Linked DNA regions of Homo sapiens: region 1 is linked to region 2. Evidence: fine-mapped expression QTL. A gene starts in region 2. The other region holds a variant in brackets. All regions are shown on one strand. Distances are between the middles of the regions. Region 1 has its middle 27 kb from the start of ZFP30. Region 2 holds the start of ZNF345 (zinc finger protein 345).

Region 1 (5,384 bases), 830 kb after region 2:
TTCACACAATGTTGTGACATGTCATTGTTAGGAGCATTAAGTGTGTCCCTGTATAGCTCCTCTGGAAGCAGCCACCTGAAAGCTTGTACCTGGTTTCTCCTAACCTTTGTCCATGTACCTTTTCTTTCTGGTGACTTTAGTATGTATCCTTTTACTAGAATAAACCATAACTGTAAGAATAACAGCTTTTCTGCATCTTAGCAAATCTTTGAGGCTGATAGTCTCTAAAGTTCTTAGTACAGTTTCTCTTTTCACAAAATAAAATGGAACATTTGAGGGAATCTTCCCAAAATATCTTATTAAAACCTCTATCGTGTAATGAATATGTTAATTAGCTTGATAGTGGCAATGACTTCACAATGTACATTTCTATCAAAAGATTAAATATATAAATATATATTTAAATATATAAAATTTTTATGTGTCAATTATACCTCAGTAAAGATGGGCAGGGAGTACCTCCATCTCAGCGGTCCCCAACATTTTTGGCATCAGGGACTGGTTTCATGAAGACAATTTTTCCACAGAGTAGGGACAGGGTGGTTTCAGGATGATTCAAGTGCATTACATTTATTGTACACTTTATTTGTATTATTATTACATTGTAATATATAATGGAATAATTATACAACTCAGCATAATGTAGAATCAGTGGGAGCCCTGAGCTTGTTTTCTGCAACTAGACAGTCCCATCTGGGGGTGATGAGAGACAGTGACAGATCATCAGGCATTAGATTCTCATAAGGAGCCCACAACCTAGATCCCTCACATGCACAGCTCACAATAGGGTTCACGCTCCTATGAGAATCAAATGCCGCCGCTGATCTGACAGGAGGTGGAGCTCAGGCAGTAATGTGAGTGATAAGGAGCGGTTGTAAATACAGAGAAAGCTTTGCTCACTTGCTTGCCACTCACCTCCTGCTGTGTGGCCTGGTTCCTCACAGGCCAAGGACCAGTACTGGTCTGTGGCCCAGGTTTTGGGGACCCCCGCTCTATCTTAATAAAGAGGATACAAATAAATTTGAAGACTTCCTTGCAGAAGATGCAAATAAATTTGAAGAATTCTAAAACAACAACTACTAAAGAAATTTCAATAGAGAGGTAAGATGCTACTTGAAATCAAGGATTTGAATGGTAGAGTGTAGGGACCAGCCCCACAGGGTCGGTGGGTCTCTCCCTGTGCACGGCGACGAGAGAGTGTAGAAATAAAGACACACGATAAAGAGATAAAAGAAAAGGCAGCTGGGCCCGGGGGACCACTACCACCAATGCGCGGAGACCGGTAGTGGCCCCGAATGTCTGGCTGTGCTGTTATTTATTGGATACAAGGCAGAAGGGGCAGGGTAAAGAATGTGAGTCGCCTCCAATGATAGGTAAGGTCACGTGGGTCACGTGTCCACTGGACAGGGGGCCCTTCCCTGCCTGGCAGCCGAGGCAGAGAGGGAGAGGAGACAGAGAGAAAGACAGCTTACGCCATTATTTCTGCATATCAGGGACTATTAGTATTTTCACTAATTGACTACTGCTATCTAGAAGGCAGAGCCAGGTGTACAGGATGGAACATGAAGGCGGACTAGGAGCGTGACCACTGAAGCACAGCATCACAGGGAGACGGTCAGGCCTCTGGATAACTGCGGGCAAGCCTGACTGATGTCAGGCCCTCCACAAGAGGTGGAGGAGCACAGTCTTCTCTAAACTCCCCCGGGGAAAGGGAGCCTCCCTTTCCCGGTCTGCTAAGTAGCAGGTATTGTTCCTTGACACTTTTCGCTACTGCTAGACCACCGTCCGCTCGGCAACGGGCGTCTTCCCAGACACTGGCGTTACCGCTAGACCAAGGAACCCTTCTGCTGGCCCTGTCCGGGCATAACAGAAGGCTCGCACTCTTCTCTTCTGGTCACACCTCACTATGTCCCCTCAGCTTCTATCTCTGTATGGCCTGGTTTTTCCTAGGTTATGATTGTAGAGCGAGGATTATTATAATATTGGGATAAAGAGTAATTACTAGAAACTAATGATTAATGATATTCATATATCTCTAAGATCTATATCTGGTATAACTATTCTTGTTTTATATTTTATTATACTGGAACAGCTCGTGTCCTCGATCTCTTGCCTCGGCGCCTGGGTGGCTTGCCGCCCACAGTAGAGCAACAAAGAAATATCATTTCCCAGTTATGAGATTAGCAAAATGAGACAACTGGTTACACCCCATATGATTACATGAGAAATAATCTCAGGGCATCCTGCACATAAGATTATATTTAGAAAAATGTATGAGCATGTACAGGCATGCCTTAAACTCAGCAATTATACATCTTAGATTCTATTCAAATGAAGATTTAAATGTGTACAAAGAGGAAACAGTTTAACAAACCATTATTGTATTAATATAATGAAAAACAAGATAATCATAAAACTGATAGCTTTGCCAGGCACGGTGGCTCATGCCTGCAATCTCAGCACTTTGGGAGGCCGAGGCAGGCGGATCACCAAGTCAGGAAATCGAGACCATCCTGGCCAACATGGTGAAACCCCGTCTCTACTAAAAATACAAAAAAAATTAGCTGGGTGTGGTGGCGTGCACCTGTAGTCCCAGCTACTCAGGAGGCTGAGGCAGAAGAATCACTTGAACCCAGGAGGCGGAGGTTGCAGTGAGCCAAGATCATGCCACTGCACTCCAGCCTGGGC[A/G]ACAGAGTGAGGCCCCATCTCAAAAAAAAAAAAAAAAAAAAAAAGATAGCTTTGGGGTGGGGCGCAGTGACTCACACCTGTAATTCCAGCACTTTGGGAGGCCGAGGTGGGAGGATCACTCGAAACCAGGAATTCATGACCAGCCTGGGCAATGTAGAGAGACCCCCTGTCTCTAAAATATATATATATAAACTAGCCAGGTGTGGTAGCCCACACCTATAGTCCTAACTACTTGGGAGGCTGAAGCAGGAGAATCCTTGAGCCCAGGACATTGAGGCTGCAGTGAGTTATGATTGCACCATTGCACTCCAGCCTGGGAGACAAAGGGAGACCCCATCTCAAATCTCAAAAAAAAAAAAAAAAGTTTCTCCTTAATTTGTAACATGAAAAATCTTTTACCTCAATTTTCTAGTGAACAGAGAGCATTATTAAACGGAATAGTCATTGTCATCCTAGAGTTATCAAACAGAAGAGTGACTGTCAACCACTTTTGGCAGAAAACCCACACGTGTGTGGATATATATAAGATCTGGAAAGATTTTTCGTTGTTGTCGTACTATAGGTAATCTTTACTTTGTGATTTTCCACATTTTCTGAATTTTTGCATTGAGGATATACTATCTTTTACCATCATAAAAAACACCACTAAGCCCAGGCAACATGGTAAAACCCCATCTCTACAAACAATACAAAAATTAGCTGGGCATGATGGTGCGTGCCTATAGTCCCAGCTACACAGGAGGCTGTGGCGGGAGGATGGCTTAAGCCCAGCAGGTCAAGGCTGCAGTGAGCCATAATCGCACCACTGCATTCCAGCCTGGGAGACAGAGTGAGACCCCATTTCCAAAAAAGAAGAGTCAACAAGTTTTAAAAAATCAAGAAGTTCATAAAGTAAAAAAAGTTACAGTAAGCTAAAGTTAATTTATTATTGAAGAAAAAAATTTTCACATATTTAGTGTAGCCTAAGTATACAGTGTTTCTAGTCTATAGTGGGGTATGGTACTGTCCTAGCCTTCACATTCACTCACCATTCACTTACTGACTCACCTAGAGCAACTTTCAGTCCTGCAAGCTCCATTCATGGTAAATGCCCTGTACAGGTGTACCATTGTTTACTTTTTATACCTTTTTTTTTTTTTTTTTTTGAGATGGAGTCTTGCTCTTGTCACCCAGTCTGGAGTGCAATGGTACAATCTTGGCTCACTGCAACCTCCGCCACCCAGGTTCAAGCGATTCTCCTGCCTCAGCCTCCCGAGTAGCTGGGATTACAGGCACCTGCCACCACACCCAGCTAATTTTTGTATTTTTAGTAGAGACGGGGTTTCGCCACGTTGGCCAGGCTGGTCTCGAACTCCTGACCTCATGATCCACCTGCCTTGGCCTCCCAAAGTGTTGGGATTACAGGCGTGAGCCACTGCGCCTGGCCTATACCATATTTTTACTGTACCTTTTCTGTATTTAGATATATTTAGATACATAAAATCATTGTGTTGCAACTATCTACAGTATTCAGTACAGTAAAATTCTATACAGGCTGGTGGCCTAGGAGCTGCAGGCTATACTATATAGCCTGGGTGTGTAGTAGGCTATCCCATCTAGGTGTATGTAAGTCCACCCTCTGATGTTCACACAATGATGACATCACCTAACAACAACATTACCTAACAACAGAAGAATGTATCCCTGTTCTTAGGTGACGTCTGACTGTATATCTAACATTAAAAGTTTATTTACAAAAATAAACTTTATTTACAAAAAAACTTTATTTAAAAATTACATGGCATAAGGCCGGGTGGAGTGGCTCACGTCTGTAATCCCAGCACTTTGGGAGGCCAAGGTGGGCGGATCACCTGAGGTTAGGAGTTCAAGACCAGCCTGGCCAACATGGTGAAACCCTGTCTCTACTAAAAATAGAAAAAAAATTAGCCAGGCATGGTGATGGGTGCCTGTAATCCCAGCTATTCGGGCGGTTGAGGCTAGGGGAATTGCTTGAATCCAGCCAGTGGACGTTGCAGTGAGCCGAGATTGCACCACTGTACTCCAGCCTGGACGACAGAGAAAGACTTAGTCTCAAAAAAAAAAAAAATTACATGGCATAACGCTTACGACACAAAATCTCTTTATCTCCAGAGTTTCTATGTATTCAAGATGGTTTTCTCATAAAACAGCAGAGGTTACTGTGGTCAGAATGTCACCTTCCCATGAGCCCACAAGGAAAAGCATCTGTGTTTCGCTAGTTCCTGTCACACTTTAATCTATTTCTGTATAGATTATATGTCCCTTGCTAGATTGAGAGAAACTTAACTAGGGCTTTCTAATCACTTCATTTCTCCCAAGTATTAGCACAGAATCATTGATATTCCTGGCATTAATAAATGCTTAATATTTTACCTAAAAATTCTATACTTGGGAAGTTATCAATAAACGAAACCTAGAAAAGTGCAAAATTTAGTGAACACAAGAATATATCACAGAACAGTTACATGACAGATGACTGCACTACCATTAACAGCTATGACCAAACATTTTAAGTAAAAAGGAAAGATATACGTGACGAATTACTACGTAAGGGGGCAGGTCTTTAAAAGAACCTATAATTTGGCTGGGAGTGGTGGCTCATGCCTGTAATCCCAGCATTTTGGGAGGCTGAGGCGGGTGGATCACGAGATCAGGAGATCGAGACTATCCTGGCTAAC
Region 2 (5,384 bases):
AAAAATGTGATTGCCTCACTCAACCAAGAGCCTTAGCCATAATTAAAAGATGTTCAGATGGAGCTGTACAGGAATGTGATGCTGGAGAACTAGAGCAACAGAGCCACATTAGGTATAGATCGCTTGCCTGTATAGTCCAAATTTTGTTGTTTTTGTTTTTTGGGTCTTTTTGTTTGTTTGTTTGTTGTATTTTGTTTTGTTTTAAGGAGCGGAGAGTTTAATAGGCAAGAAGGAAGGGAGAAGACAGAAGGAAGAAGTTCCCCCATACAGAGATGGGGGTTGGGGGGGTGGTGGCTCCAAAGCCGAAAGAGGAGGTCCCCTTGTTTTTTGGGGGTTTTTTGAGACGGAGTCTCACTCTGTCATCCAGGCTGGAGTGCAGTGGTGCGATCTCAGTTCACTGCAACCTCTGTCTGCCGGGTTCAAGCCATTCTCCTGCGTCAGCCTCCAAAGTAGCTGGGATTACAGGTGCACACCACCACGCCCAGCTAATTTTGTATTTTTAGTAGAGACGGGGTTTCACCATATTGGCCAGGCTGGTCTTGAACTCCTGGGCTCAAGTGATCCACCCACTTCAGTCTCCCAAAGTGCTGGGATTACAGGCGTGAGCCACCGCACTCATGCTTGGTTTTTTTGTTTTGTTTTGTTTGTAGAGAGTATGCTGTTCAGGCTGGTCTCAAACTCCTGAGCTCAAGTGATCCTCCTGCCTCAGCCTTCCAAAGTGCTGAGATCACAGGCATGAACCACCATGCCCGGCCCTTCCTGCCATTGTTAAAAGCTTCAGGATTATATTTTACATCAGCATTTCCTGTTGTCATACACTTCCTGCCATCATATTTCGGCAACCTCTACCACCTCCCAAAGTTTCTAGCTTAAAAAATTATTGATTTCCTCCTAGCTCCCCTTTCTGTCAGTTTTTTAATTTTATATTTGTTTTCAAATGAGTCCTCACATTGATTTTAAAAATTTAACAAGAGTATAGTGAAAAGGAAGTTCCCCTTTCACTATTTATCTTCCCCATATGCATCTATTATGACGGGTTTCTTTTTTAAACTACTTGGAGTACTCATAACTGATTTTGTACTCTAGTTCAGAAGAAATGTCTGAATGTTAAATGTTTACATAAAAAATGCTATTTTATTATATCAGTAATGGAGCTTCCCCCCTTTAAAACTGCTGCACCAGGAAGATACAACCTTGTTATCACAATTTAAAGAGAAAATGAGACTTGGAGGTTCAGATTCCTCCACAGTCATAGTATCAGCTACCCACGCAGTGACCCACATTCAGGTGATTACACACACTCATACACAGATCCATACACGATCTTGCCCCCCCCACCTCCACACACTCAATATGACCTCCCCACGCCCAAAGCTGCACACATCTTGACCTCACTTCTCTCACACACACACCAATCTGACCCGCACGCGGTTTCTTTCACTCAACTACCCAGACACCCCTCATCCCACCAGCACAAGCAGGCCCACCGCGGTCTCACACACACTCGAGCCTTCCTTTGCCCAGTCTCACATGCATGACTGGGATCGCGGATTTGTCCCCTTCCGACTCCCCATGCTGGTTCGGTCCCAGACGCTCAGGTGCCACATTGGGGTGCGCTCTCCCGGCTCCTCCACACGCTACGCAGCTGCCCGCCTCAAGAGCGTCTGCGTGCTTCCAGCGTTAAGTGGAATTCCAAGCAGCCTCCGGGGCACAGTTAGTCTGGTCACTGCGGCCAGACTGCCGCCTCAGGACCCAGAGAACGCAGCACACTTTAGTTGGGCCCATCTATCCCCGGCGAGGCTTGGACTACGTTTCCCAGGAGACCCTGCGGTCCAGTATGTCTCCCGAGGAGGGGCGGAAGCCCGGGAGCCGCCCTCTGAGGCTGGGCGGGGTGAAAGAAAGCTTGCCCCAGAGGACTTAAACAGGCAAGAAGGACTTGGTTAAAGACTATTGCAATAGTCAACTTCCAATACAACAGCAGCTGGAGATTTATAGCTAACGGGCTGGGTGAAGGAGTTAAAGGATGCTAAATTACTAAGAGGAAGTTAAGTATCAAGAGTGGGGGGATTGTTACTAAACTGGCTTAGCTGGATTCTTGCTGAAGTGCTGTTCGCAGGCTATGGAGGAGGCCTGGCCAAGCAAAAAGGGCTCAGAGGAGCCTGACTAAAGCTTGGTCTAGGGACTCCTTGTCAGGTGAGACTCCCGGAAGGCTCCGATGGGCAGCTCACCTCAAAGAGATAGTTTTGTTGGTGCCAGAGTCCGCGCCAGGGGAATCGGGATGGCTGGGCTGTAGCTTTCGGCAACCTGTCGCTTTCTGGACTACACTTCCCAGAAGCCTCTAGGCCCAGGGCACTCTCCCGCGATAACTAGATTGTCTCTTGAGGAGTGGGCGGGATCTTCCCGCGGATTTGGGCAAGCGGCCTTGGGGCTTTGTGAGATAGCTAGGGTCGACTTGTGTGGATTCTAGTAGAACGGAGCTGACCCTATCCGAACAGGCGTAAGTGAGGCGGCTCGGAGCCTGGCGCGACAGGAACTCCCGACCTGTGTGGGCTGCGTGGGGAACAGGCTAAGGAGCGATTGTGAGGAGTGTGTACGGTTGTGACTGGGGGCGTGTGTCTGTGCGACCGTGTATGGAACTGTGAGGGCGGGGAGGAGGACTTTTTGTTTATGTTTGTGCGGGTGTGAGTAGAGTTTAATTGTGACCGGGTTGGGCACTGTGTTTGCGAGTGTGAGGTTCCTGGACCGCGGTTGTGACTGTATGTCCCCTTGGGGTGTGTGTGTGTGTGTTTACTACCATTTGCCGAACTGTGTGTAGTATGCCTTAATTTTGAGGTTTGTGGCTGCTTCCGTGTGTGTGTGTGCGCGCGCGTTGGTGATATTGTTGATGGAGGGTGCGTGTGAATTTGTTGTCATTGTGACCCCAAGGTGTATGTCACTGGGAATTTGAGAGATGCCCACGGACTCTGTGGTTGTGTCCGTGTCTACCCCCGTGGTGTGTATGAGTGTGTGATTGTGTGTTGTGTTTAGGTTTGGGGTGCCTGTGACGTTTATGTCCCTGCGGTGTGAGTGAGTTTGTGTGACTATGTGTCCGTATAGCCAATGTAGGTATGGGGAGTCTTTGTCTTTGTGACTTCAGCCATTGGAGACCCCTGTGAGCTCAGGGACAGGTTCTGCCCAGAACGGCATTGACCCTACCGTTGTCTGTGATGCCCGGATTAAGCAGGATGCCCTAGACTTCTCTGACCTTCCTCTGTAGGTGATGGGCAGTAGGGGCTGAGCAAAGATAACTTCTGACATAGTCAAACCAACTCCCTCTCAGAAGAACCTGATGTTTCCTGACTGCTTTCTCCTTCCTCAGCCCTGCCCTGCTTGGATAGAGGCCTCCGAACAGGAGTAAAGAATGGCTGTTGAACATCCACAAGGCACCTGCAAGGTAGCTTGTCCTGTCCTCTTGTTTAAGAAAAATCCCTTTTTCTTTGTCAGGACATAGTTGCTTTCCTTCTCTTGAAAATTCTTGCCTATGAGATGACCTGATCCCTGGAGTTTCCATTTTGAGAAAATGTGGTGTCTTCAAACCCCACCTCCCACACCTGATTTTCCCTTACTGATTTGTCAGATGGTTTTAATTTTTCTTTTTCTTTTTTTTTTCTTTCTTTCTTTTTTTTTTTTTTTTTTTGAGACAGAATTACAGGCGTGAGCTGCTGTGCCCGGCCTTATCCTTCTACTCTTGATGGACATTTGTCTTGTAATTTTTGGCTACTACAGGCAGTGTGACTATGATCATTTTGTGCGCATATTTTGGTACACATTTGCTTGCATTTCTTTAGAATATATACCTAGTGATTAAATTGCTGATAGTGGCTGGATGCAGTGGCTCATGCCTGTAATCCCAGCACTTTGGGGGGCCAAGGCGGGCGGATCACGAGGTCAAGAGATCAAGATCATCCTGGCCAACATGAGGAAACCCCGTCTCTACTAAAAACACAAAAATTAGCTGGGCGTGGTGGCACGCGCCTGTAGTCCCAGCTACTTGGGAGGCTGAGGAGAATCGCTTGAACCCGGGAGGCAGAGGTTGCAGTGAGCCAAGATTGTGCCACTGCCCTCCAGCCTGGTGACAGAGTGAGACTCCATCTCAAAAAAAAAAAAAAAAAGTGCTAATAGGTAGGGTTTGTACATCTTCAGTTTTACCAAACATTGCCAAACTGTTCTCTAAAGATACTGTACTTATGCCAGCAGTTTACAAGAGTTTTCTTAGCTCCACATCCATGCTAGACATCATAAAACTCTTAAATTTTTGCCAATCTGGTGGGTGTCTAATGTTATATTTAATTTAAATTTCCTTTATTGCTAATAAAGTTGAGCATTGATTCTTGGCCATTTGAATGTCCCCTTTTTTGTTTTTTTTGTTTTTTTTTTTTGAGACTGAGTCTCTATTGCCCAGGCTGGAGTGCAGTTGAATGTCCCCTTTTATAAGGTGTTGTTCAAATATTTGACCAATTTTTAATTGGGTTTTTCTCTGATTTACGGCAGTTGTACATATGTGTATATATCTTCTGTAAATTAATCTTTTTTCAGTTGTATGTGTGATAAGTATTTTCACCTGCTCTGGTTTGACTTTTCACTCTATGTGGTGCCTTTTGACAAATAGAAGTTCTGGATTTCATTGTAATAAAATCATTTCCTATGGTTAGTCTTGTTTAAGAAATTTTTGTCTACCTCAAGATAATGAAGATTTTCTTTGGTCTTAAAGCCAAAAGCTTGCTTTCTTTCTTTCTTTTTTTTTTTTTTTTTTTTGACTCGAAGTTTCGCTCTTATTGCCCAGGCTGGAGTGCAATGGCATGATCTCGGCTCACCACAACCTCCGCCTCTTGGGTTCAAGTGATTGTCCTGCCTCAGCCTCCCAAGTAGCTGGGATTACAGGCATGCACCACCATACCTGGCTAATTTTGTATTTTTAGTAGAGACAGGGTTTCTCCATGTTGGTCAGGCTGGCCTGGAACTAGGTGATCTGCCTACCTCAGCCTTCCAAAGTGCTGGGATTACAGGCATAAGCCACCGCACCTGGCCAAGCCGAAAGCTTTCTAGGGTAGGCTTTAATGTTTAGGTCTTTACACCACCTGGAATTTTTATAGGGTAGGATTGAATTTCATTTTTCTCCCGAGTGTGTATCCAGTTATTATAGTATCATTTATTGGAAAGTTCATATTTTCTGCACTGATATGCAGTGCCATTTTAGTAAAAAAATCAAGTGAACATATATGTCTATGTCTATTTCTGGATTCTGTTCCACTGGTCTATTTGTCACTCCTCGCAGTAATAACATACTGTCTTACTCACTGTAACTTTGTATTTGGAGCAAGTACACTTACCTTCTTTTTCCTCAA

What was found. PIP is the estimated chance that this variant, and not a neighbour inherited with it, causes the effect.
Region 1: its variant is the best candidate, but not a certain one, in a credible set for the expression of ZNF345 in visceral fat (GTEx, PIP 0.79).

Annotation. Positions count from the first base shown.
Region 1 is chr19:37,679,391-37,684,774 of GRCh38, forward strand. It overlaps the pseudogene ZNF781. Among named protein-coding and RNA genes, the nearest start is that of ZFP30, 27 kb to the left of the region's middle. The variant A/G (reference allele first, on the strand shown) is at 2,689.
Region 2 is chr19:36,848,472-36,853,855 of GRCh38, forward strand. ZNF345 (zinc finger protein 345) reads left to right here and starts at 2,405. Exons shown (of 3, transcript NM_001242472.2): 1 at 2,405-2,497; 2 at 3,359-3,433. It also overlaps a transcript of ZNF790 not described here. RefSeq lists an enhancer at 1,928-2,167.